7 linked regions of the Homo sapiens genome follow. The protein of the gene in region 1 purifies or fractionates together with the protein of each later gene. This does not show direct contact. Each region holds a gene or a part of one and is shown on either strand. Other genes may lie near its edges.

What was found.
Region 2: the proteins of DNAJA1 (region 1) and OGDH fractionate together in Homo sapiens (co-fractionation; one large-scale study listed by BioGRID). This does not show direct contact.
Region 3: the proteins of DNAJA1 (region 1) and AHSA1 purify together in Homo sapiens (affinity purification with western blotting; 2 studies listed by BioGRID, with this or other methods). This does not show direct contact.
Region 4: the proteins of DNAJA1 (region 1) and OSBPL11 purify together in Homo sapiens (affinity purification with mass spectrometry; 3 studies listed by BioGRID and IntAct, with this or other methods). This does not show direct contact.
Region 5: the proteins of DNAJA1 (region 1) and SART3 purify together in Homo sapiens (affinity purification with mass spectrometry; 2 studies listed by BioGRID and IntAct, with this or other methods). This does not show direct contact.
Region 6: the proteins of DNAJA1 (region 1) and GOLGA4 purify together in Homo sapiens (affinity purification with mass spectrometry; 2 studies listed by BioGRID and IntAct, with this or other methods). This does not show direct contact.
Region 7: the proteins of DNAJA1 (region 1) and OSBPL9 purify together in Homo sapiens (affinity purification with mass spectrometry; 3 studies listed by BioGRID and IntAct, with this or other methods). This does not show direct contact.

What each region holds. Positions count from the first base shown.
Region 1 is NC_000009.12:33,031,773-33,035,272, forward strand, and holds part of DNAJA1 (dnaJ homolog subfamily A member 1), read left to right. Parts: intron 1-2,443; coding exon 2,444-2,558; intron 2,559-3,500.
Region 2 is NC_000007.14:44,704,127-44,707,626, forward strand, and holds part of OGDH (2-oxoglutarate dehydrogenase complex component E1 isoform 1 precursor), read left to right. Parts: intron 1-3,098; coding exon 3,099-3,262; intron 3,263-3,455; coding exon 3,456-3,500. UniProt on the Homo sapiens protein: 2-oxoglutarate dehydrogenase (E1o) component of the 2-oxoglutarate dehydrogenase complex (OGDHC). Participates in the first step, rate limiting for the overall conversion of 2-oxoglutarate to succinyl-CoA and CO(2) catalyzed by the whole OGDHC.
Region 3 is NC_000014.9:77,461,093-77,464,592, reverse strand, and holds part of AHSA1 (activator of 90 kDa heat shock protein ATPase homolog 1), read right to left. Parts: intron 2,434-3,500; coding exon 2,351-2,433; intron 1,952-2,350; coding exon 1,834-1,951; intron 1-1,833. UniProt on the Homo sapiens protein: Acts as a co-chaperone of HSP90AA1. Activates the ATPase activity of HSP90AA1 leading to increase in its chaperone activity.
Region 4 is NC_000003.12:125,529,498-125,532,997, reverse strand, and holds part of OSBPL11 (oxysterol-binding protein-related protein 11), read left to right. Parts: intron 1-983; coding exon 984-1,137; intron 1,138-2,417; coding exon 2,418-2,483; 3' UTR 2,484-3,500. UniProt on the Homo sapiens protein: Plays a role in regulating ADIPOQ and FABP4 levels in differentiating adipocytes and is also involved in regulation of adipocyte triglyceride storage. Weakly binds 25-hydroxycholesterol. Interacts with OSBPL9 to function as lipid transfer proteins.
Region 5 is NC_000012.12:108,530,174-108,533,673, reverse strand, and holds part of SART3 (spliceosome associated factor 3, U4/U6 recycling protein), read left to right. Parts: intron 1-1,339; coding exon 1,340-1,452; intron 1,453-2,393; coding exon 2,394-2,470; intron 2,471-3,363; coding exon 3,364-3,500. UniProt on the Homo sapiens protein: U6 snRNP-binding protein that functions as a recycling factor of the splicing machinery. Promotes the initial reassembly of U4 and U6 snRNPs following their ejection from the spliceosome during its maturation.
Region 6 is NC_000003.12:37,358,271-37,361,770, forward strand, and holds part of GOLGA4 (golgin subfamily A member 4), read left to right. Parts: intron 1-2,972; coding exon 2,973-3,002; 3' UTR 3,003-3,035; intron 3,036-3,500. UniProt on the Homo sapiens protein: Involved in vesicular trafficking at the Golgi apparatus level. May play a role in delivery of transport vesicles containing GPI-linked proteins from the trans-Golgi network through its interaction with MACF1. Involved in endosome-to-Golgi trafficking.
Region 7 is NC_000001.11:51,620,092-51,623,591, forward strand, and holds part of OSBPL9 (oxysterol-binding protein-related protein 9), read left to right. Parts: intron 1-2,380; exon of another isoform or gene 2,381-2,453; intron 2,454-3,500. UniProt on the Homo sapiens protein: Interacts with OSBPL11 to function as lipid transfer proteins.

The sequences.
Region 1 (3,500 bases):
ACTTGCCCATCTATTATATTTAAATGCTCCGTTAATTGATTTGATAGACTACCTTTCATTTTTTTAGACTTGACACTTCCCTAACCCATTGGGCTCCAGATTTAGAAATAACTATATAACCTTTTTTTTGTATTCTCGGGATTTGATTGATTTGTCAATTTTTAAATTTTACTCTTGTCAACTTGCAAAAACATTTTAAAATGTATTACAGCAATACACTGCAGAAATTTTAAGAAATGTATATAACCCCAGAAGGAAACTTAAGTCAACATTATGGTAATCTCTTTTCAGATTTTGCTGTTTATAAATGGGTCTACTATTATACTGTACTGTGGTATGATACCAATCTGGAACTGTTAATATTTGAACATATTTCCATATTAATATACAAATCTACATTAACATAAGTGGCTGCAATAGGATTCTATCATGTGACTCATGATACTGGCCTCTCTGACCCCCAGGGTTCCACCCAAGAATGTAGTACATTGAAAGGTAAAAATAAGTTTCCTTGGCCAGTTGTTGAACTTAATAAATCTGTGTTTACCCCTTAGTGGGCCCATGCCTAAGGTTTATACTTTGAGGTGTTCTTGATACCAATAGCATACAGAGTAAGTCTTAACGTTGTTGATAGGTTCTTGGAAACTGGGACTTCTAGCAGAATGACCTCAAATAATGTCATGCAGGTCCTCAAATAATGTCATGTCACTGTAACACAGCTGAGGGGAAAAAAATTGGTCTTGTTATGTGTCATTTCATTTAAAGCAATTTCCAAGAACCTATCAACAATGGACTGTAAGTGAGAACTTGAAATTAATGCCCTAACTATATAGCAAGTGAAGGCATTTGTGCTGTGCCTACTCTTACTCTGTATTCAGGAAAACCTAGCTGAGTTTAATTGCTTCCCTAGCATAACAAGTTATTTTGCCTCAATACACGATTAAAGACAGATTGTTTAATTTTGTCAGTGTATGATACTGATAGCGCTTTAAGTCCTTATTTAAGAGGTACGTACTGAAGTATTTGTGGGTTAATGGATATAGTTGGAGTTTGCTTGAAAGTATATGTGGGGGGCATGCGTAGGGGTGTAATACATGAAATATTAGTCATGAGTTAGTAACTGCTGAAGCCAAATTGGATGGATATGTAGGAATTCATTGTACTGTTGGCTCTGTTTATACAGGATTAATATTTTCCATACGTAAAGGTGAAACATGATTGCTCTGTTAGGTAACCAGAGTGATCTTGGGAAATAATCAGGAGATAACTGCTTTGGTGTAATACTCTACAAACACAGGTTTTCTTACATGAGTTATGTTCTAAGAGACGTTGCCCAAACCCTTACTGAACTAAAATATGTGGGTCAGAGGTGAGGGGCACGAAGTCTCAGTTTAAAAAAAAAAAAAAAGGCGTGTTTTTTTGCCCTGTTAGAAAATACTCCTCCCCTTGTATTTTACGGACCACATGGGCTAAGGGAGTGTCTAGCACTGATTGTTTTGTTTGCTTGTTTAATTTAAATGAGACAAGGTCTGGAACTCCTGTGCTCCAGGGTGCTATCCTCAGGGTATCCTCCTGACTCGGCCTCTCAAAGTATAATTACCCTTTTTTTAAGGGGACTATACTGAATAGTTCTTTAAAATACGGATTTTCAGGCACAGGGGCTCAGGTCTGTAATCCGAACACTATAGGATGCCGAGGCAGGATCCCTTGAGCCCAGTAGTTCAAGACCAGCCTGAGCGACATGAGAACCCCCATCTCTATTAAAAAAAAAAAAATTCAAAAATTAGCTGGTCTGTGGTCCTGGCTACTCGGGAGGCTGAGGTGGGAGGATCACTTGAGCCCAGGAGATGGAGGCTGCAGTGAGCCATGTTTGTGCCACTGCACTCCAGCCTAGGCAACAGAGCAAGATCCTATCTCAAGAGAAGATTATAGATTTAAAATTTTTTTAGTTTTATATATAAATACTACAATAGAAGGGTCTTGATTTACATTGCTGTTAGACTTTTAATAGAAGTAATTTGATGTGTTATAAGTAATGAAACTGAAATACTTAATTAACATTTTTTGGTTATAACCAGTGTTAGCCAGTCATGGTTTAGTACCAGCATATACCTGTTGAGTTAATACTCTAAATATTGCTAATGAGGTGTAGGTGTCTGTGGGAAAGTTGAAACTTGGAAAGGATATGCAGCTTACTTCCCCAGGGTAATCCAGCCAGTGAATAGCAGCTCTGAGATTTGAAGGCTAGTCTCTTTGCCTCTGGAGTTTGTGTTCTCCACTATGATACCTTTCTTCAGGAGCAAATTGGACTGAACTACTTAAGTGGGCTTTCTTAGTCATTTCTGTGATTTTTATGCATAAACAAACATCTATGTATAGATTTTATGATTCTGACCTTAGTTGGATATTTAATAAAAGTACAAAATTAATGTTTTGTTTTTAGGCATGAAAGATGGCCAGAAGATAACATTCCATGGTGAAGGAGACCAAGAACCAGGACTGGAGCCAGGCGATATTATCATTGTGTTAGATCAGAAGGACCATGCTGTTTTTACTCGGTAAAGACTTTTATCAACCACTCAAATTGATATCACATATTTGGGTTGTTGGTTTTGTTTTTTGTTTTTTTGTTTTTTTTAAAGTGTTTTCCATTACTCTTAGAACCTATTTCTCAGGAAGATTGTTAACCATTGTTCAGATCATAAGAGGTTGAATACATAGGATCAGATTTTTAGCTTTTTGTCTCTAAGTATGGAACGTTGAAAATGTGTTTCAATTAGATGTTTTGTGTGAACCTAAGCAGCAGATGGGTGGGGAAAACATCCCTGGACAAAAATTTGCCCTCAATCTTTGTAAAGCAATTTAAGTGCCTTAAAGCTCTCACCAGTTTTCAATCTCATTTATGATAAATTGAATTGCTTTTAATTATAAATATCCAAAAGCATCTCTGTAGGAAACTTAAATTGTAACTCAATACTAAGTATAAATTCAGGTCTACCATTTTGAGCTAAATAATGAGTATGATGAACACTGAAGCACAAGAAAGATGGATGATTAACAGCAAATGTTTGTGATCCATGGCTAACATAACACCCTCTGTGCATGCTATATTCCCAGCAACTTGGGAGGCTGAGGTGGGAGGATCACTTGAGGCCAGGAGTCCTAGCTACTGGGGAGGCTGAGGCAGAAGAGTGGCTTGAACTCAGGAGTTCAAGGTTATGATCATGCCACTGCATTCTAGCCTGGGTGACAGTAAGAACCCACCTTTTTTTTTTTTTTTTTTTAATGGAGTGGAGGTGAAATTGGGAACATCTTAAACTAGTTTAGGATTAATTAATATTTCAGCTTGGTTTGGTGGCTTACGCCTGTAATCCCAACACTTTAGGAGGCCGAGGTGGATGGTCAGGAGTTCAAGACCAGCCTAGCCAACATGGTGAAATGCCATCTCTGTTAAAAATTAAAAAATTAGCCAGGCATGGTGGCAGGCCCTGAGGCAGGAG
Region 2 (3,500 bases), on another chromosome or scaffold:
CTGCCAAACTTTCCACAGTGGCTGCATTTTACATCCCACCAACAGTATATGAGGATCCCACCATCTCTACATCCTCATCAGCACCTACTATTTTCTGGTTTTTTCATAGTAGCCATCTTAATGGGTGTGAGATGATATTTCATTGTGGCTTTGATTTATATTTCTGTAATGATTAAGTGATGTTGAGCATCTTTTCATATGCTTATTGGCCACTTGTATATCTTCCTTGGAGAACTGTCTATTAAAATCCTTTTTTTTTTTAATTTAATTTTTTTTAAGAGACAGGATCTCTCTATGTTGCCCAGGCTAGTCTTGAACTCCTGGGCTCAAGGAATCCTCCTACTTTGGCCTCAAAGTATTGAGATTACAGGCATGAGCCACGGTACCCAGCCTATTCAAATTATTTGCCCATTTTTGAATCTGGTTGCTTGTTTTTGAGTCTTAAGAGTTCTCTGTATATTCTAGATATTAATTCCTTATCAGAAATATAATTTGCAAATATTTTCTCCCGTTCTATGGGTTGTTCTTTTATTCTGTTGTTAGTATCTTTGGTTTTGGTTTTGGGTTTGGGTGTTTTTTTTGTTTGTTTTTTGTTTTTTTCCGAGATGGAGTCTTACTCTGTTACCCAGGCTGGAGTGCATTAGTGCAATCTCAGCTCACTGCAACCTCTGCCTCCCAGGTTCAAGTGATTCTCCTGCCTCAGCCTCCCAAGTAGCTGGGATTACAGGCGCACGCCACCATGCCTAGCTAATTTTTGTATTTTTAGTATAGACAGGGTTCCACCATGTTGACCAGGCTGGTCTTGAACTCCTGACCTCAGGTGATCTGCCCACCACAGCCTCCCAAAGTGCTGGGATTACAGGCGTGAGGCACTGCACCTGGCCTGTTGTTAGTATCTTTTGATGTACAAAAGTTTTTAATTTTCTTTTTTTTTTTTTTTTTTTGAGACGGAGTCTCGCTCTGTCGCCCAGGCTGGAGTGCAGTGGCGGGATCTCGGCTCACTGCAAGCTCCACCTCCCGGGTTCACGCCATTCTCCTGCCTCAGCCTCCCAAGTAGCTGGGACTACAGGCGCCCGCCACTACGCCCAGCTAATTTTTTGTATTTTTAGTAGAGACGGGGTTTCACCGTTTTAGCCGGGATGGTCTCGATCTCCTGACCTCGTGATCCGCCCGCCTCGGCCTCCCAAAGTGCTGGGATTACAGGCGTGAGCCACCGCGCCCGGCCAAGTTTTTAATTTTCATGAAGTCAGATTTGTCTATTTTTTCTTCAGTTGCCTGTGACTTTGGTGTCATATCTAAGAAATCATTACCAAATTCAGTGTTGTGAAACTTTTGCCCTATGTTTTCTTCTGAGTTTTATAGTTTTTGCTCTTATGTTTAGATCTTTGACCCACTTTGAGCTAATTTGTTTTGTTTTTTATTTTTTGTTTGTGTTTTTTTGAGACAGAGTCTCACTCTGTCATCCAGGCTGATGCAATCGTAGCTCACTGCAGCCTCAATTCCTGGGCTCAAGTGATCCTCCTACTTTGGCCTCCCAGAGTACTGGGATTACATGTGTGAGCCACTGTGCCCAGACTTTTATTCTGTTTGTATCATAAATGGAATTGTTGGCCTAATTTCCTCTTCTTATTGTTCATTGTTAGTGTATAGAAACACAACTGGTTTTGGTTACGTGCATATGATGCGTAGTGCTTAAGTCAGGGTATTAGGGTGTCCGTCACCCGAGTACGATACATGTTTGTTAACCTTACTCCTTTATCAAACGTTGAACTTAATTCCTTCTATCTAACTGTATGTTTGTACCATTCAACCCACTTTTCTATATTTTTTTGAGATAGATTCTTACCCTGTCACCCAGGTTGGAGTGCAGAGGCATGGTCATCATGGTTCACTGTAACCTCTGCCTCCCAGGCTAGAGTGATTCTCCCACCAAAGCCTCCCAAGTAGCTGGGAACACAAGGTGTGCACCACCGTGCCTGGCTAATTTTTGTACTTTTGTAGAGACGGAGTATCACCATGTTGCCCAGGCTGGTCTCGAACTCCTGAGCTCAAGGGATCCTCCTGCCTCAGCCTCCCAAAGTGCTGGCCAACCCACTGTTCTCTATCTGAATATTTTCTCTGATTGTGTTGAAAGTTTTTATATTTGTAAAATTCTGAGCAGCAGAAACAGAGTAAACATGGGATTTTTTTTATATAATTTTTTTTTTTTTTTGAGATGGAGTTTTGCTCTTGTTGCCCAGGCTGGAGTGCAATGGCGCATTCTTGGCTCACCACAACCTCCGCCTCCCGGGTTCAAGCAATTCTCCTGCCTCGGCCCCCCGAGTAGCTGAGATTACAGGCATGCGCCACCATGCCTGGCTTATTTTGTATTTCTAGTAAAGACAGGGTTTCACCATGTTGGTCAGTCTGGTCTCGAACTCCTGACCTCAGGTGATCCGCCTGCCTCAGCCTCCCAAAGTGCTGGGATTTACAGGCGTGAGCCATGCGCCCGGCTGGTATTTTTTTTTTTTTTTGTCTGGAGATGGAGTCTTGCTCTGTTGCCCAGACTGTAGTGCATGATCTCAGCTCACTGCAACCTCTGCCTCCCGGGCCCAACCGATTCTTCCACCTCAGCCTCCCGAGTAGCTGGGACCACAGGCGCACACCACCATGCCTGGCTCATTTTTTGTATTTTTTTAGTAGAGACGGGGTTTCACCATGTTGCCCAGGCTGGTCTCGAACTCCTGAACTCAGGCAATCCGCCCGCCTCAGCTTCCCAAAGTGCTAGGATTGCAGGCGTGAGCCACCGCACCCGGCCGGGATGTTTTAATAATACTCTTGTCCCCGAAGTCTGAGCCAAGCTGTTTTGAAGGCTAGCCTGGTGTTACTTGATACCCAGAGCTGGCCATGTCTGCTGTGTATTTGTTACACGTAACGTGCTTTTCAAAGTGTGCCTGGTCTGAGCAAATACAGGGCATCAGAGGCTGGTGAAGGGGAAGCATCTCTAACCCTTGAAAGCTGCGTCTCCTGGCAGCAGTCCCTGGCACAGCCCTGGGCCCAGGAGAGCTCTCAGCCACATACCTGAGAGAACCAGCCTAGCCATGGGAACTCTCTTGTAGGAACCCACTTCCAGCGGGTGATCCCAGAAGATGGCCCTGCAGCTCAGAACCCAGAAAATGTCAAAAGGCTTCTCTTCTGCACCGGCAAAGTGTATTATGACCTCACCCGGGAGCGCAAAGCACGCGACATGGTGGGGCAGGTGGCCATCACAAGGATTGAGCAGGTGAGGGCAGGTGGTGCCATCAGGGTGTCCCCCCAGCGGGGGTCAGGGCTCTGGTGCCTTCACAGAACAGCCTTGCTTGGGGTGTGGCCCTCAGGTTCCTGACCTTCCCTGCTCGGAACACCAGTTTCCCTTTGCTGGATCTTGCCTGCCCTCTGAGTTTCCTCTTTTTGATCTGACCCCTGCTGTCTCCTAGCTGTCGCCATTCCCCTTTGACCTCCTGCTGAAGGAGGTGCAGAAG
Region 3 (3,500 bases), on another chromosome or scaffold:
AAGATAAAATTCCAGCTCATGGAAGTTACTTCTTAGTAGCTGAGATCTGGAGTTTCATTACAGCTTGACAAACACAGCCATCCTACCACAGAATGAGGTTATGACCAGAAAAGGAAGAGGCTATTTTTACATCTTTACTTTTGGCCTATGCCAGACTGGTACCTGGGTATATGCTATAGAATACAGTATGTTCACTGGGATTATTATTATTTTTTTTTTGAGATGGAGTCTTGCTCTGTCACCAGGCTGGAGTGCAGCCTGCACTCCAACTCACTGCAACCTCTGACTCCCTGGTTCAAGCTATTCTCCTGCCTCAGCCTCCTGAGTAGCTCGGATTATAGGCGTGCACCACCATGCCCAGCTAATTTTTGTATTTTTAGTAGAGACGGGGTTTCACCATGTTGGCCAGGATGGTCTTGATCTCCTGACCTTGTGATCTACTAGCCTCGGCCTCCAAAAGTGCTGGGATTACAGGTGTGAGCCACTGCACCTGGCCACTGGGATTATTTTTAAAAGCTTATCCTGACTCAACTGGAAACATTATAACATATTAAGTGCATGTGAGGTCTACTATGGAAGGATGGCGTGAACGCCGTGGCACTTTGATGACTTCAAGAGTGGGTAATCTACCCAGCACCTATGGATGCATGGTTAGTGCCTTTCCTCCACTCTGCCTTACCTCTGCAGAAAAGCCACAACTAGTTATGGCACTGGTGTACTGGTCCTCCCCAAAAAGGTGTCTATCACCTTCCATCACCTTCTTTGATGGTTATTATACATATTCCAACACCAAGATCAGAATACACTGGCAGAAATGGAATCCCAGGGGAAAGCTGAGCTGACTTCTATTCTAAGCATCTAAATATCCCTGGAGAGTGCATATCAAAGATAGTCCAGACTGTATTCAAGTAATGAGTCCAGAGATGCCAAGTCTTTAGATTAGCGCTGTCCATTAGAAATATAATGTGAGCCTCAAATACAGTTTTTTTTTTGTTTTTTTTTTTTTTGAGATGGAGTCTCCCTCTGTCACCCAGGCTGGAGTGCAATGGCGCGTTCTTGGCTCACCGCAACCTTTACCTCCTGGGTTCAAGCAATTCTCCTGCCTCAGCCTCTTGAGTAGCTGGGATTACAAGCATGCACCACCATGCCCGGCTAATTTTGTATTTTTAGTAGAGATGGGGTTTCTCTATTGGTCAGGCTGGTCTCGAACTCCCGACCTCAGGTGATCCGCCCACCTCGGCTTCCCAAAGGGCTGGGATTATAGGTGTGAGCCACTGTGCCCAGCCCGTAGTGTAATTTATACTCACAGCACATCTCTTGTGTTTTTTGGTCATCCAGGCTGGAGTGCAGTGGCATGATCTCAGCTCAATGCAACCTCCCTGCCTCCTGGGCTCAAGCCACTCTCCCACCTCAGCCTCCCGAGTAGCTGGGATTACAGGCATGGGCCACCGCATCCAGCTAATTTTTGTATTTTTTGTAGAGACAGGGTTTCGCCATGTTGCCCAGGCTGGTCTCAAATTCCTGAGCTCAGGCAATCAGCCCACCTCAGCATCCAACAGTGCTGGGATTACAAGTGTGAGCCACCGCGCCAGGCCATCACAGTACATTTCAGTTTGGTCTAGCCACATCTAAAATGCTCAACCATCATTATTAGGCAACACAGCTCCAGATCTTTCCCTTACTCCGAGCTTATGGACTGACTTTAAGATGAAATAAGCCCCCTCCCCCCAAATCTTTACCCATTTGCCAAAGAAAGGACTGTCCAGGCCCTTAACCAGAGTCTAACAGGTGGAAACTACCTCCTTAAGGCATACAGAACTACTCAAGGGATACCTGTTTTGAGGGTGCTGATGTAAATTCCCATTGCTTCTCTTAGAAGTTTCACCCCTTCTTCCTTCATTAAGGCCACGAGATTTGTGTCAGGCTCATCTTTGGCAAGGCTCACACTAATCTGGGTGAAAGATGAGAAGTAGGTGGTAAATAACTTGAGGGGCACCCTCATTATGGAATGTGGGGGCTGAGCAATCAGGTGACTGCTGACATTTCCAAAGGAAATGCATGAGTACTGCGGTATTCGTACAATCCCCATTAGTGTTCCTTCTTGAGTCCTCTCTGTCAAGTGGCTAATGTTAGTTAGAACCCATGTCACTAGCTAAAGTGAAGAAATTAAAGAAGTGCAAATTGCTCTAGAAGTTTCCAATGGCACCATATGCCTAGAAAATTATCTGCAGGCTAGGGTTCTGAATGCTTGGACCAAGCCTGGGCTATGAATCCTGAATGACAGGTCACTTTTCTCATCTGAGAATAAGAGGATATAGAGGACTCGGATTAGGAGTTATGAAGCACAAACCTCCACTTCATCCACGCTGTTTTCATCAGACAAATTGGGGATCTCCACATGTCCTTTGTATTGTACTCCTGACTTAGAAGTACCTGTCAAAACCAATGCAATGTCATTAGTCCACTCCTTGGCAGGAAAGGTCTCTGCTCCAGGGTCCTAACTGCTACCTCACTTCTGCTGCTTTTGGATGGCTGAACTGATCCTCTTTATTCTGAGAATGCCACATGCCAGATGCAATCAACACCCGCACCCCCAAAAGAAATGTCTTTCCTCACCAGGTTACTGGAAACCAACTATGTTATTACAATGTGAGACAAAGAGCTACAGATTTGGTACTAGCATGAGTTATACCATGAGAACTTGGGTCAAAAGCCAGTAGTTCTGCTAGAATACTTGTTTTGAAAATATCAATTTATTTCAGTGCAACTGAAATATTAGGGAACAATTTGATTATAATGAGAAGTTCATGTTTGCTTATATGTGACTCCATCCATGAGAAACACTAGGTGAATACGGAAAGCCTCACCCAGCTACACAGGATACATAAAACACACACATCTCAAACACCTATCTGCCAATGACCTCAGTTTACAGCGTGTGTTGTGAGCCATACCCATCCTCAACGAGTGTAATGTTCCCTCTGATTGTGGATGACTCTCCTTCTACCATTCCATAGTAGTCCTCAAGCTGCAACCCTTCTGATGCCCACCTTTTCCCCCCGCAAGACAGAGTCTTGCTCTGTCGCTCAGGCTGGATTGCAGTGGCATGATCTTGGCTCATTGCAACCTCCACCTCCCAGGTTCAAGCAATTCTTCTGCTTCAGCCTCCCAAGTAGCTGGGATTACAGGTGCGTGCCACTACACACGGCTAATTTTTGTATTTTTTAGTAGAGATGGGGTTTCACCATGTTGGCCAGGTGTGTCTCCAATTCCTGACCTCGTGATCCACCTGCCTCAGTCTCCCAAAGTGCTGAGATTACAGGCGTGAGCCGCCGCGCCTGGCTTTGATGCCCACTTTCACAAATAAACTTCAGGTCTTTTTCATGGTAAAGCACCATATTTATTGTAGTATTCACCTATTTTTTATTTTTTTTGAGATGGAGTCTCACTCTGTTGCCCAGGCTGGAGTGCAACGGTGCGATCCCAGCTCACTGCAACCT
Region 4 (3,500 bases), on another chromosome or scaffold:
CTCTATAAATTTGCCTTTTCTGGATATTTCATATAAATCATACAATGTGTGATCTCTTATGCCTGGCTTATTTCCTTAGTATAACGTTTTTGAGGTTCATCCATGAAGTATTAATTGCATGTATCAGTGGTTCATTGCTTTTTATTGCTGAATAGTATTGCACTGTATGGATATATCACATTTTGCCTATCCATAATACTGCTGTGAACATTCTCCTACAAGTCTTTGTATGGACATTTATTTTCATTTTTCTTGGGTAAATACCCAGGAGTGGAATTGCTGGGTTTATGGTAGTTTTATGTTTAACTTACTACATTTTTTTCACATGTATATCCAGTTGTCCCAGCACCATTTGTTCAACAAACAGTTCTTTCCCTAAAGAAGTGTTGTGGCAGTTTTTTTTTGTTTTTTTTTTTTTTTGCTTGAGATTTGTTAAGCTTCCCTCTCCCTGTGCGTGGCCTAGAAACACTCTGGACAGCGAGTTAGAGCACTCATAGGACTCCCCTCATTTGTTTCCTTTCTCAAGGATCACTGCCCTGCACTGCCTTTTGCTCAGTATCTGAAAACCACTATTGTATTATATGTTGCCTGGTTTCCTGGTTGATGAAGGCAGGAAAATAAATGTGTTCCCCATTATTTCATCATGTCCAGAAGCACAATTAGTCTTGCTTACATTTCAACTTTGAAAATTTACTTCTCTTTTTACTCGTTAATTTCTAAGTTTTCTAAAAACAAAAAATCCTGCTTTTATAACCTGGAAAAATACAAATTATTTTTAATTTAAAAAGAAGCAGAAGGAGCAGCATCCTGGACATAACCATCAGCAGCACAGTATCGTTATTCTTGGAATTCATAAGCATGACATTGTAGATGTGATTTAGGAAACGTTATTTTATAAAATTATTGTAATTTTGAGGGTATTGATTCTATTTAATTATCTCTTTTAAAGAATGCTTGTAAAATGTGTGGTTTTTGGATTTCAGGCGATTGTGGAAAAATGTGACAGACTCGCTGAGAGAATCTGAAATTGATAAGGCCACAGAGCATAAGCATACCCTGGAAGAACGTCAGAGGACTGAAGAAAGGCATCGTACTGAAACAGGCACACCTTGGAAAACCAAATATTTTATTAAAGAGGTATGCTGTACATGTGTTCAAGATAAAAATGTATCTACTTGGCTGAGAACTTTAGCTTACTAGGCTTTGTTGAATTGCTATCACTTATACATCTTTATTTTTAAAAGTAGTATGGCTGTATATAAATACCAACTGTTTTTGAGACCAGCCTGGGTAACCTATAGCAAGACTCTGTCTCAAAAAAAAGGCAGATATACCAAGAACAGATTCTAAGAAAGAAGAGTTTCTAAGTGAGAACATCTATATATCATTAAAAATGAGCTAGGGGGTGGCCGGGCTCGGTGGCTCATGCCTGTAATCCCAGTACTTTGCGAGGCCGAGGCAGGCGGATCACCTGAGGTCAGGAGTTCGAGACCAGCCTGACCAACATGGAGAAACCCAGTCTCTACTAAAAATACAACATTAGCCAGGTGTGGTGGTACATGCCTGTAATCCCAGCTACTCGGGAGGCTGAGACAGGAGAATTGCTTGAACCCAGGAGGCGGAGGTTGCAGTGAGCCAAGATTGCGCCATTGCACTCCAGCCTGGGCAACAAGAGTGAAACTCTGTCTCCAAAAAAAAAAAAAAGAAAAATGAGCTGGGGGGCCTGGCGCGGTGGCTCACGTCTGTAATCCCAGCACTTTGGGAGGCCGAGGCGGGCGGATCATGAGGTCAGGAGTTTCAGACCAGCCTGGCCAACATGGTGAAACCCCCATCTCTACTAAAAATACAAAAATTAGCCGGGTATGGCACGTGCCTGTAATCCCAGCTACTTGGGAGGCTGAGACAGGAGAATTGCTTAAACCAGGGAGGCGGAGGTTGCAGTGAGCCAAGATTGTGCCACTGCACTCCAGCCTGGCTGACAGAGCAAGACTCCGTCTTGGGGGAAAAAAAAAAGGAAAGAAAAAAAATGAGTTCTGGGGTGCCAGTGGAGACAGGGAGAACAGTTAGTACCTTCCCGATCATTTCTCTGTACTCCACCTGCTGCCCATAACTCTGTGAGTGAGGCTCAATCTGTAGCATCTTGGCGAAATTGGCAAAATTGCTACAAATGGTTCTTGCAAAATTAAATGTTCATGGGTCACAAACTAGATCCTCCCATACCATGTCTTCTCACCTAAATCCTAGCTAAACCACAGGCATCGTTTGATGTCTTAATCACAAAGACTTTATTCCTTCACAAAAACTTGTTTTTGAATGTGAAAATAGAATTCCATTTCAGTGAAGGTGTTGCTTCTAGTTTTGGTTACTGATTTTGATAATATTAGAGGGATGATTCTTTATCTTTTTATTTGTTTCAGGGAGATGGCTGGGTTTATCATAAACCACTTTGGAAAATAATTCCAACAACACAACCAGCAGAGTGACACATACTATCTAAAACTCGACCAAATGAGGTTCTTCTCTGTTTACCCTAAATCCTCCCAGAATGGAGTCATTGCACTGAGTGACCTGCTTCCTGATTGCGCAGACTGAAACTAGCTAAACCTGAATGTACCTACTAGGGCACCATAATACTGCAGCAAGACCAAAGTGGTAAAGAAACACAGTGGACCTTTTACCAACCTGTTCATGTGATGTGAGCAATACCATCTTAAAACTTGTTACCTGAATCAGTAGATGAATCTTTTATCCAGTTCTTGCTCCTAAAGTTAAGTTTGAATCCCCTATTTTTGCACAGGGGCAGCAGATACACACAACAATGAGAACTCAGTGACTTTGATTTCTTTGTAGTGAAAAGTGAAGTCTCCGTTTCAGAGTTTGTGTCTTTCTTTCTGTCCATAACTGAAGTATTCACTACTCTTGTAAACCAACCAAGAGGAGGAGAAAGATGACCCAGAAGTGGATTCAGCCATTGTGCCTGAAATCAGTGTTTAAAAAAAAAAATCAACCAGGTTGTGGTAACAAGGCATTCTATTTCTTCAAAAAGACTGTATGCCTGTGTCTGAGGAACTTACCTATTATCCACCTCTGTTGGAACTCTCTTTTAAAAAGTACATTTATAGATTGATCAGAATTATAACCATGGAGAATTTTTTCTTCTGAGCATTTTAATATACTTGAAAACAACATTGACTTGAAAAATTTCAGAACATTTTTCAGTACCTAGTTTTATTAAATATTACACTTGAGAGACACTTTTTAAAAATGTGTTAATGTCAATATGATGAGATTTTAGCCTTTCTCCAGAACTAAGGCATTAAAGAAAATAGCAAATATTAAAAAATAAAACTGTTACTTTTTTCCTTCTTTCTTTTCACCTTTAGGTTAATATCCAGTATTATGTGTTATCCCTTTGGATAAGTATGCTTTATTTTACCTCTGTTAAAAATTAAAATAAATGATTCTATTCATATTTGTCAGTAATTCAAAACTTATATGTG
Region 5 (3,500 bases), on another chromosome or scaffold:
AGTAGGAAGCTGTCAGACTTGTGGTGGCAGATACAAGTTTTCCAAAATTCTAATTTTCACTTGAAAGCTTGAATTCTATCACATGCAACAAATAATGTCAGTGGTTTTCCCCAGAGTGGCAGCCTCACTTTGTTAATTTTCAAAAATGTCTGCCAAATACCCAGGTCTGAGTAACTGACCGTGGTTTGTCACTCAAGTTTCCTTTCAAGTAAAAATGGTGTCCTTGAAAAAAATGACTTGATTAGCTTGCAACTCAAACAGTAATATGCTTTTTTTTTTTTTTTTGGCAATAACCATTGTACTTCAGTATGCAGAAGGGCTTTAAGTGTACTTAGTATTTCATCACACAGTGCATTAAAAAGATTTCTACTGCCTTGATTTGTGCTAAGGGCCACCATTACTTGTGCACTGTCTTGAAGATGTCAACACAGTGAAAAAGTCCAGTAATGTCTTGGTATTATTATAAAAGGAGTTTTGACTTTGCAGGGCCCCTGAGAGGCTCTGGGAGATCCTCAGGGGTACGTGGATCTTACTTTGAGAACCAGTGCTCTGAATTTATTCTGAGCATCATAATATGTATATATAATTATGTATATTTAAAATGTTTTAAAAACAAATATGAATACACTGTTGCATAACAGTTATGATTAGCAGAATTGTGTAGCTGTTGTGATTAGCAGTGTACAAAAAGGATCTGTTTGCGACCAGCCTTGCCAACCTGGTGAAAACCTGTCTCTATTAGAAATACAAAAATTAGCTGGGTGTAGTGGTGGGCACCTGTAATCCCAGCTACTCAGGAGGCTGAAGCAGGAGAATTGCCTGAACCTGGGAGACAGAGGTTGGAGTGAGCCGAGATCGTGCTATTGCACTCCCACCTGGGTGACAAGAGCGAGACTCCCTTTCAAAAAAAAAAAAAAGATCTGACTCTGGGTATGAAATTTGACACTACCCTGGATTCATAACTCTCCTGTCAGTAGGACGCCATAGTAAAATTTCCCTGGGGACTGTATCAGGTTACAGAGAGCTGTTGGACTCCCCCGCCATGTGCCGCACATGTGAATGCTGTAAAGGCAGAATGCTGGTTGCAGATCACAATATCAGGTACACTTTCCAGTAGCCCCTACATGGCTGAGGGAGAGAGTGCTTCAGGGAAATACTTCGTAGGTGACTGTAGAGACTCTGGAAGGAGAAAGCATCATGGATAGATCTGAAAGCTAAGGTCTTCTCAGAAGCTAGAGTTACTGAAGAGTGAGTTTCTACCTGGGAGAAGACGGCCTCTCCCTTCGAGTGCCTTCCACTTTGTGTCCTGGTGGCAGCAACTTTTTGTTTTCTGCCTTAGAGCTCATGGTGACACCCAGCACTGCCGGAAGGCTCTGCACCGGGCCGTCCAGTGCACCAGTGACTACCCAGAGCACGTCTGCGAAGTGTTACTCACCATGGAGAGGACAGAAGGTGGGACCCCCAGCTCTCTTCTGGCTTGGAGCCTAACCCATTTGCTGTTTGGTCTCAAGTAGGAGCATCTGGTTACAGTCTGGGGACAGACTGTGTTTATGCTGCCACCTTAGGTGGTGCCCTATGATTAGACTGTCACAAGTGTCCTGAAAATGAGTCCTCCTGCAGCTCTTCTCAAATTCTGCAGCTACAAGGAGGACTCTGTGATGTCACTGTAGCACAGGGTTCTAATTCTCTGTGGGGGGGACTGTGCGTTATACAATGTTTAGGGGCATCCCTGGCTTCTAGCCCTGAAATGCCAGTAGCAGCTTCACCACCACAACCAAACATGACAACCAGAAATGTCTCTTAACATTGCCAAATGTCTCTTGATGGGCAGGATCCCTCCTTTGAGAGTCACTGTGCTCTAGTACAACATCTATCCAACAAAGGAGCTTGGAGAGGCAAATGGCTCAATGTGTCCTTTGCATCCCTTGTTAAATTTCAGAGCCTTCAGTGTTAGCTAGAACCAATAGAAAAATAATGTGAACTTATCTGTGGGTATTGGTCTGGATTTTGGGTATGGACCCCTCAGAACTGGCTTGCAAAGACCACCAAAAAATAAGAAATAAATGCCTCAACATTTGAGTAGCTCTTAAAATTCTTCAGTCTTAATATAAATGTACTTTTGCATTAGAACGTTCGTTTTCATATTCTTTGCCATTTAGAGCCCTTAATAGATCATATTCTGGTTTTCAAGTCTCTCCTGAAAGGAGAGGGACATTTTAAACCCACTTAGAAGGACTATTTGAATTCTGAACTTCAAGCCTACAGGGATTACATTTTCTTATTGTTTGATGGGAGAGATCTCTTCTGGAGGTACAGAGAAATTAAGAAAAATTTATGTGATTGTATCCTTCAAAATCCTAAAGAGTGAAAGTTTTGCTTCTCTTTCTTTCAAGGTTCTTTAGAAGATTGGGATATAGCTGTTCAGAAAACTGAAACCCGATTAGCTCGTGTCAATGAGCAGAGAATGAAGGTAATGACAATGTTTGAAGTCTTTGGCACCTCTGGTAGCTATTTTGGCTCAGTTTGGTATGGATGTTTCTTGTCAAGATGTTTTACATTTTCCTAAGTGTCTTTTACTCAGTATTAATTATAAAATATTTAGATCAATGCTTAAACCTGTCTTGTGTCATTTTTACATTGTTCTAAAACATCAGCCCCAATATTAAGTACTTGTTTCATTTAGTGAGGGAATTTTGGCTCTAAAATTTACGAGAATTGATGAAAAAGAATAAAGAAGAGCCTCACTTAGCCTAGTGAGTGGAACATGAACACCCCAACTTATTTAGGGCTTCAGTTTTATGGATTTTTTTTTTTTTGAGACGGAGTCTCGCTCTGTTGCCCAGGCTGGAGTGCAGTGGCATGATCTCGGCTCACTGCAAGCTCTGCCTCCCGGGTTCACGCCATTCTTCTGCCTCAGCTTCTCGAGTAGCTGGGACTACAGGTGCCCGCTACCACACCTAGCTAATTTTTTGTATTTTTTTAGTAGAGATGGGGTTTCACCATGTTAGCTAGGATGGTCTCGATCTCCTGACCTCGTGATCCACCCATCTCGGCCTCCCAAAGTGCTGGGATTACAGGCGTGAGCCACCGCGCCCGGCCAGTTTTATGGATTTTTTTGCCTTCCTTTTGGTGAGTAATGATTAGGGTGAGGAAATTGCTAATGTAACAGAGACATCAGATCCAGAATTCCAACGAACCTGAATGAGCCCTGGTGTGGAACAGCCGTGAGCCTGTCCACGTTTTTCTCCTGATCTCTGCTTTTCATTAGTAATGAATTTCCACTCCTTCTCCCCTTTCATGACAAATCAGTACAGTGAATGTAATTGCCACATCCAGCGATGCATCATCTTCCCACTTTTCTAGGCTGCAGAGAAGGAAGCAGCCCTTGTGCAGCAAGAAGAAGAAAAGGCTGAACAACGGAAAAGAGCTCGGGCTGAGAAGAAAGCGTTAAAAAAGAAGAAAAAGATCAGAGGCCCAGAGAAGCGCGGAGCAGATGAGGA
Region 6 (3,500 bases), on another chromosome or scaffold:
GACTGCTGGTGAGGTACTTTTCAATATATCTTATCTTTACTATACTTCTCTCTCTTCAGTGAGTTTTATACTCTTTATTTAAAAAACCTCATTACAGGATACAAGTTATTACTGTTTTCAGAGTTTAACCTAGTCTCGAGTAGATTTTATAGATGAGAAATCACTATCTGTTAAGTAAGGTTAAATTACAGAGCATAATTACAGTCTGGTTTATTTGAGGGTCTTGGTGTATAGGGAAGGAATCTTAGTCCTTTGTTGACTTGCTGTGGAAACTCAGGCAATTCTCAGAGCCTCTTTTCTTCACAAGACTAACATAATCTTGTTAGGATTGTCCAGGAACCAGAGTACAGTTGCCTGCGCTGAGTGATAATGTAGGGATGGTGGTGATAATTATTTAGCCTCCTTTTAGCAATGTGTAGAACTAGTCTTTTCTGGAAAAAGAGACTGGAAAGGTAAATCATTGATGTGTATAAGAAAAACCATTAAAGACCTCAGTAGGAGGGTCAAGTCACACGGTGATACCAGCCCACAAAATGCCCCCATCTCCAACTTCGGTACCTTAGAGTGCCAGCGACATGCGACATTGCTGGGATGAGAGCCTAGATCTCAATGGTTTGACTGCTGTATAACTTAGCGCAAACTGTTTTCATATTTTTGACCCTCATTGGTAAAATGAGATTGTTGGATTATACTATCTCTAAGGTTTCTTTCCCCACAAAGTATAAAATCTTGTTTTATATTTGTTTCAAGTAGGAAAAAGAATTGCCTTCTAAACAGCAGGCAGAAGTTAAAACAAAATGCACATACCAAATGCACATATCTCTGTTTTTCCTAGAACAGCTTTTTTTCCCTCCTCTCAATTTTTAGTTTACTATACCTTGCTACTTCATTTTATGATGGTTTAGGTAGCTTAGATGGCCAGAGTAGACTGGATATTCGAGTAGCACAATATGGGCAAGAGTGAATACATAAGTTCTTGGCTCATCTAATTGTTAGTGTTTTTATTGAATAAAACTGCCCTAGAAGTACACCCTGATTTTTTTTAAAATGAGAGTATTATTACATTATTTAAGATAATTTCATTAGGAAAGTTTATTGTAATTGGGTAACAAGCATCTCAGAATTGAGATTCCTTTGTTATATGGAAACCCCTCTTTAAAAGTTTTCTTAGACATTTTTCTCTTTAGAGTGCTAGCAAAATGTAATGACATAAATGGACATCACTGTTTTCTTGATGACTCCATTAAAGAAAATTTCTCTTTGATGGAGAAGGTTGGCTTGTTTGTGTTCTCTGTCCATTCTAGTCATCTTTTTCAATTGCTCTTCTGTTGACTCTCCTTCAACTTTGCTTTCACACTGATTCTTGGTGGTGTATATAGTTCTTCATCAGTCCTTGCCCTGGACCAGTCTTGTGTTCTCTTAACGTCTCATTTTCTTCCCCTGTTGGAATTTTCAAAATTTCCTCCGAATTAATAAAATCAGAACTTTTCAGCATTGCTAGGTACAAAAGTTTTCCATTCCCACACGAGGTTTACCCTTTCCCTCTGCATGGGCTCAGAAGATGCATGCAAGGTGGGTTCAGGAAACACATACAAATAAAACTGACACATTATAGAAAATATTGCACATGTCAAATACATATTTGTTTTCTTGAGATTGGTTTTGATTCTGGTGTTGGTAGAATAAGGTAATACGTGATCACTGGAAAAAATATTATAAGCCAGAAACATAGAAAGGGAGTCCCTCATGATCTTCAGCCTCCAGACTACTTCTGCTATGCCAGTATCATCTCTGTGAACAGTTTGGGGAATATCTCCATGTTTTCTAAGCCATGTAATTACATATTTATAGTTACTCCTTTATCATTCATTTTATTTTATAAAAATGAGAGTATGCAATGGCTTGCTTTTTTCACTTAATATATTTTTATATTATTCCACCTTATTACAAATTGGTCTCATTCTTTTCAATGGCTGATTGTATGATTATATGGATGTCCTACAGTTTAGTTCACCAGTTTCCTCCTCATTCCATTTACTTATGTTTTCAAGATTTTCAGTACTTTACAAGCATAGACATAGGGAACATCCATATACATGGATTTTGTATACTTCTGCCAGAGAGGATATTAACCTCATTGTGTTGTGTGTGTTGCACATATTATTTTCTAGCTTGTCTTTTGGTTTTGCTGCTTTTTACTAACTTTAAATATGAAAGATAAATAAAATGATGTTTCTGAGGTTGGCCACACTATCCAAGAATAGACTCAGATTTTATAAGCAATCTTTGTTTTTAATGCTGCCATTTTAAATCACCGTGAAGGTAATTAATGATTTTGGACAATGACCATCTTAAAATGGGGCATAGAATTTATTTAAGGTTTGTCACAGTAAAAACTATATTTGAGATTGAGTTTCCTTAAATTGAAATTTCAGTTTGGGTCACCATTCCTGAAACCATTTCTGATACATTGTTGAATTACAAGAGAGTTATTCAGTGATCAAATTGACACATTAGGAATGAGAATTCAACATATAGACACATGGCTCTTCAAATTCATCATCATTTTCCCGAAAACTTTTTAGGGTAAATTGAGATTATGTAAATCAAATTTTAATGTGTACTTTCATGGAATTATGAAAGAGATCCTTTTGTAAAGCAAATAATTGCCCCGTAATTCAGCTGGTAAATATGTACTTAAAATATGCAGTACACCTTTCATTACGTTGTTTAAGTCTTCAAATGAAAGTTGCAAGTAAAATCTCAGCTACATAATATTATATTTACCTAGGATATGGGGGGAGGTATTACAGATTCCTTATTCCTTGCCTGTACACCCTTGATTTGGGGAGATTTGAGAAAAATTTAAGTACAGTCTGTAATCCTATGAACTTCATATACACATACAATCTATGTGTTATATTAAGTCTTAAAACTAACCCAATAAGCTTTTTTTCTTCCTGGCTTTGTAGTTTACTTCACCTCGCAGTGGTATCTTCTGAGTAAACCATCAGTCTGTGCTTAGTTAACATGTGGTGAGTGAAGAACAATGTCTTGTGTCTTTTGTGCAAAAATCAAATGTGTTGCCTGATACTAACCATTTTGCTGGAATTCTTTTGCTCTTGTTTAATAAATATATGATTATGCTATGGGTTAATATAAGTATTTTCTGTTCATTCTGTTATATGGATCGATAATAGTTAAAAATTACTACCACCAGTAAGAGTTATATAATTTTAGGAAATTTCATTTCTTTAAAGAGTAATTGAAAGTTTGAAAATTGCTCTTTGAAATTTTGTTAAAGAATCCAAAAAAGTATTTATGTAACTTATTTTCCCTTTTGTTTTTAATTTTCCAAGAATGATCTTTGAAATTATGATTGTGAGAGAGAAATGAAAAATCATTTTCTAGATAAAAATGAAGTGGTATATTCCGTGAGAATTCAAAATCCTGTAAAGCCTGAGTCAAGGCCAGTCAGAAATAATGAAAACTAGTAAGAT
Region 7 (3,500 bases), on another chromosome or scaffold:
TGTGAACTGAATAGATTTACACAAGCCTCACCTTAGTTGAATTTTTATTAGATGAAATGGCCAGGGAGAACTAAGGATATAAATTTAGGAACACTATGTGAGCAACCAATTGTTTATGTGGCTTATGATCACAAAAGAAGATATGGAAGGAAGGAAATTGGGGGAGTTATAGATCTATGAGGAATTGGAAGTTTAGAAAGAGGAGTTTGTGCCTTTTGTTAATTTATGAAAGGTTACTGAGTACCTATTGTGTGCCTGGCACTTTGTTAGGAAGTGGGGTTAAAGTGGCAAATAAGATGGAAATTGTTCATCCTCTCATGGTACCTATAATATGTTGGGGGACATACCAGATAAGAGCTGTGATAGAGGAAGCACAGGGGGATACATAGGTGGGCTACTTGACTCAGTCTTGAAGGGTTAGGAAAGGTTTCCTTGGAGAAGCAGGTTTGTTTTGACTTGAATGATGAGGAGAGATTAGCCGTATGAGCAGAGAGGGAAAAGTGCTTGAGACAAAGGGAATAAAAGTTTTTTGGAGGAGAGAAGAGTAAGCAGCTTGTCAGTTCTGGAGGTTGGGCTGTGAGGTAGGTAGTAGTGAGAGATGAACTGGGGAGCTAAGCAGGAGGACAGATAATGAAAGGCTTTCTTGGCAAACCATGTTAAGGAATTTGAACTTTATCCCCAGGGCAGTGGAGAGCTATTTCAGTGTTGTAAGCACTTTTTATTATTATTGAAAAATCTTTTATTATAGAAATTTAAAAAAATAAATCTATTTTATTTATTCATTTATTTTGATAAGACTGGTTAATTTTGTATTTTTGGTAGAGACGGGGTTTCACCATGTTGCTGAGGCTGGCCTCGAACTTCAGGGCTCAAGCATTCACTTGCCTCGGCCTCCCAGAATGTTAGGATTACAGGCGTGAGCCCCTGTGCCCAGCCTATTATAGAAAATTTTTAACATTCATAAAACTAAAGAGGACGGTAAAATGAATTCATTTCATCCAGCTTATACAAGTATCAACATATGGCCAGTCTTGTTTTATTAGTACTCCCATTAACTCCTTCCTCCTCTATTGAATTATTTTTAGAGCAGATCCCAGATTATTATTTCTTGTGAATATTTCAGTATGTGGCCAGGCATGGTGGCTCACGCCTGTAATCCCAGCACCTTGGGAGGCCGAGGCGGGGAGATCACCTGAGGTCAGGAATTCAAGACTAGCCTGGCCAACACTATCTCTGCTAAAAATACAAAAATTTGCCCTGCTGTGGCCAGCGCCAGTAATCCCAGCTACTTGGGAGGCCAAGAATTCAGCCTCTCCCTTCAAGGAGAATCACTTGAACCAGGAAGTGGAGTTTGCAGTGAGCCGAGATGGTCCCACTGCACTCCAGCCTGGGCGACAAAGCAAGACTCCGTCTCAAAAAAAAAAAAAAAAGAAAGTTAAGGTCCCTCTATTTTCAAAAGAATGTTATCAAAACACTTTTATTACAGCTAAATAGTAGTATTTATTAATATCAAATATCCAGTCTGTTCAATTTCCTAGAATGTCGCAAACATTTCTTCCTTACCAGTTGGTTTGAGTCAGAATTCCAAACAAGATCTGCATATAAAATTATAGAGTCTCTTTTAATCTCTAGTTCTCCCTCTCTTTTTCTTGGCCATTTATTTGTCTAAGACACCAGGTCATTTACTCTGTAGAATTTTCTGCATTTTGGATTTTGTTGGAAGCATCATTTTGGTATGTTTAAACAGGTTCCTTTGTCCTCTGTATTTCCTATATAAATTGATAATTTGAGCTGAAAGCTTAATCAAATTTATTTTTTTTCTTTTGGGCAAGAATATAGGTGGAACCTATCAAATCAAGAGGCATATGATGTTAGCTTGTCTCTCTATGATGTTAAAATTGATCAGTAGGTTCAGGTGAAATGTGTGTTTTTTTTTTTATTTTAAAGAATATGGTTGCGGAGAAGTAATCAGGAGGTTGCTTTTGATGGGATTTAGTGATTGGATGTGAGTGAAAGGGGAAGAGTCTGAAGACATCCAGGTTTTCAGCTTGAGCTGGTTGAATGATAAAAAGGAAGATAGGAAGAACAGGTTGGGGGAGAGAAGTGGTTGCTTTGGGGCATGTTGAAATTGACATAAAGATGTGTTACAGTCTGGAGCTTGGGACAAAAATCTGGGCTGCATATCCTCTTATCAGTCAGTAAAACATAAAATAAATCTGGGCTGCAGATAAATATTAGTTTTTCATATATGGAGAGTTGAGAGAGTGAGTAGAATAGAGATCTTTGGATAGGACTCTGGAAAATACCACTGGATTTAGTTATCTATTGCGTTATGACAGATTACTCCAAAATGTAGCAATTTAAAACAACAGTTTGTTACCTCATAGTTTTCGTGGGTCAGAACTTTGAGTTCTGGCTCAGGGTCTCTTATGAAGTTGTAGTCAATATATTAGCCAGTGCTGCAGTCATCTGAAAGGCTTGACTGGAGCAGGAAGATCAGCTTCCACGATGACTCACATGGCTGTTGTCAGAAAGTGGCAGTTCCTTGCTGGCTGTTGGAAGGTGGCCTCATTCCTCACCAGGTAGCCTCTCCATTGAGCTGCTTAAGTGTCATCATGACAGAGCAGCTGGCTGTGATCCAAGTGAGAGCAAAGAGGAAGCCTCAATCCCTTTTATGACCTAGTCAGAGACCACCACTTCTGCCTTATTCTGTTCATTAGAGACAAGCCATTAAATTCCACTCATGCTCCTGGGGATGGGAATTTCAGACATGAGGAGGGAAATTAGGCTTTATCTTTTGAAAAGAATTTGTGGACAAATTTTAAACCACCACAATCACAATTTAAGGGATTGGCAGAGGAAAAAAGCTTGCACAGGAGAGTGAAAAGGGATGCCAGAGATGTAAGAGAAAAACTAGAAGAATGTGGCAGTCATGGATGGCAAGGTGGAAGTAGTAAATTGGCTTGAATACTGCTGAAAGGATTAAATAGATGAGATCTAAAGCATATCCATTGGATTGATGAACATCATTGATGTTCTTAGGCAGAGCAGTTTCCATGGAGTGGTAGGTATGGAATGCAGGTTGGAGTGGCTTGAAGAGTAAAGAGGAGGCAGGAAATATATGAAGCGAATGGAGGTTATTCAAGATGTTTCATTGTAGAAAGGGCAAAGAGGACATGGAATGTGGAATGGAGGGGAACAGTTTCTAAAATAGGAATATGCTTAAATGGTGTAGGGATGGGAAGCAAGGTCAATGTTAAAAATGAGGATACAGTCAGGACGCAAGGAGTATAGTAAAGATTTAGGACAATGACAGTGGGAACTGGAAAAAGGAATAGCTAAGGAATAGCTAAATATGATTTGTTTAGTCATTACCCACAAATGTTTAACCCTCTTTCTTGATTTGTATTGCTTTTGGAGAGAGGGTTAGAAACTGAATTAGTAAGTTACCTGGGCTACTCAAGATATTCCTTGTAAAAGGAGTCGTTAGAGAAATCATA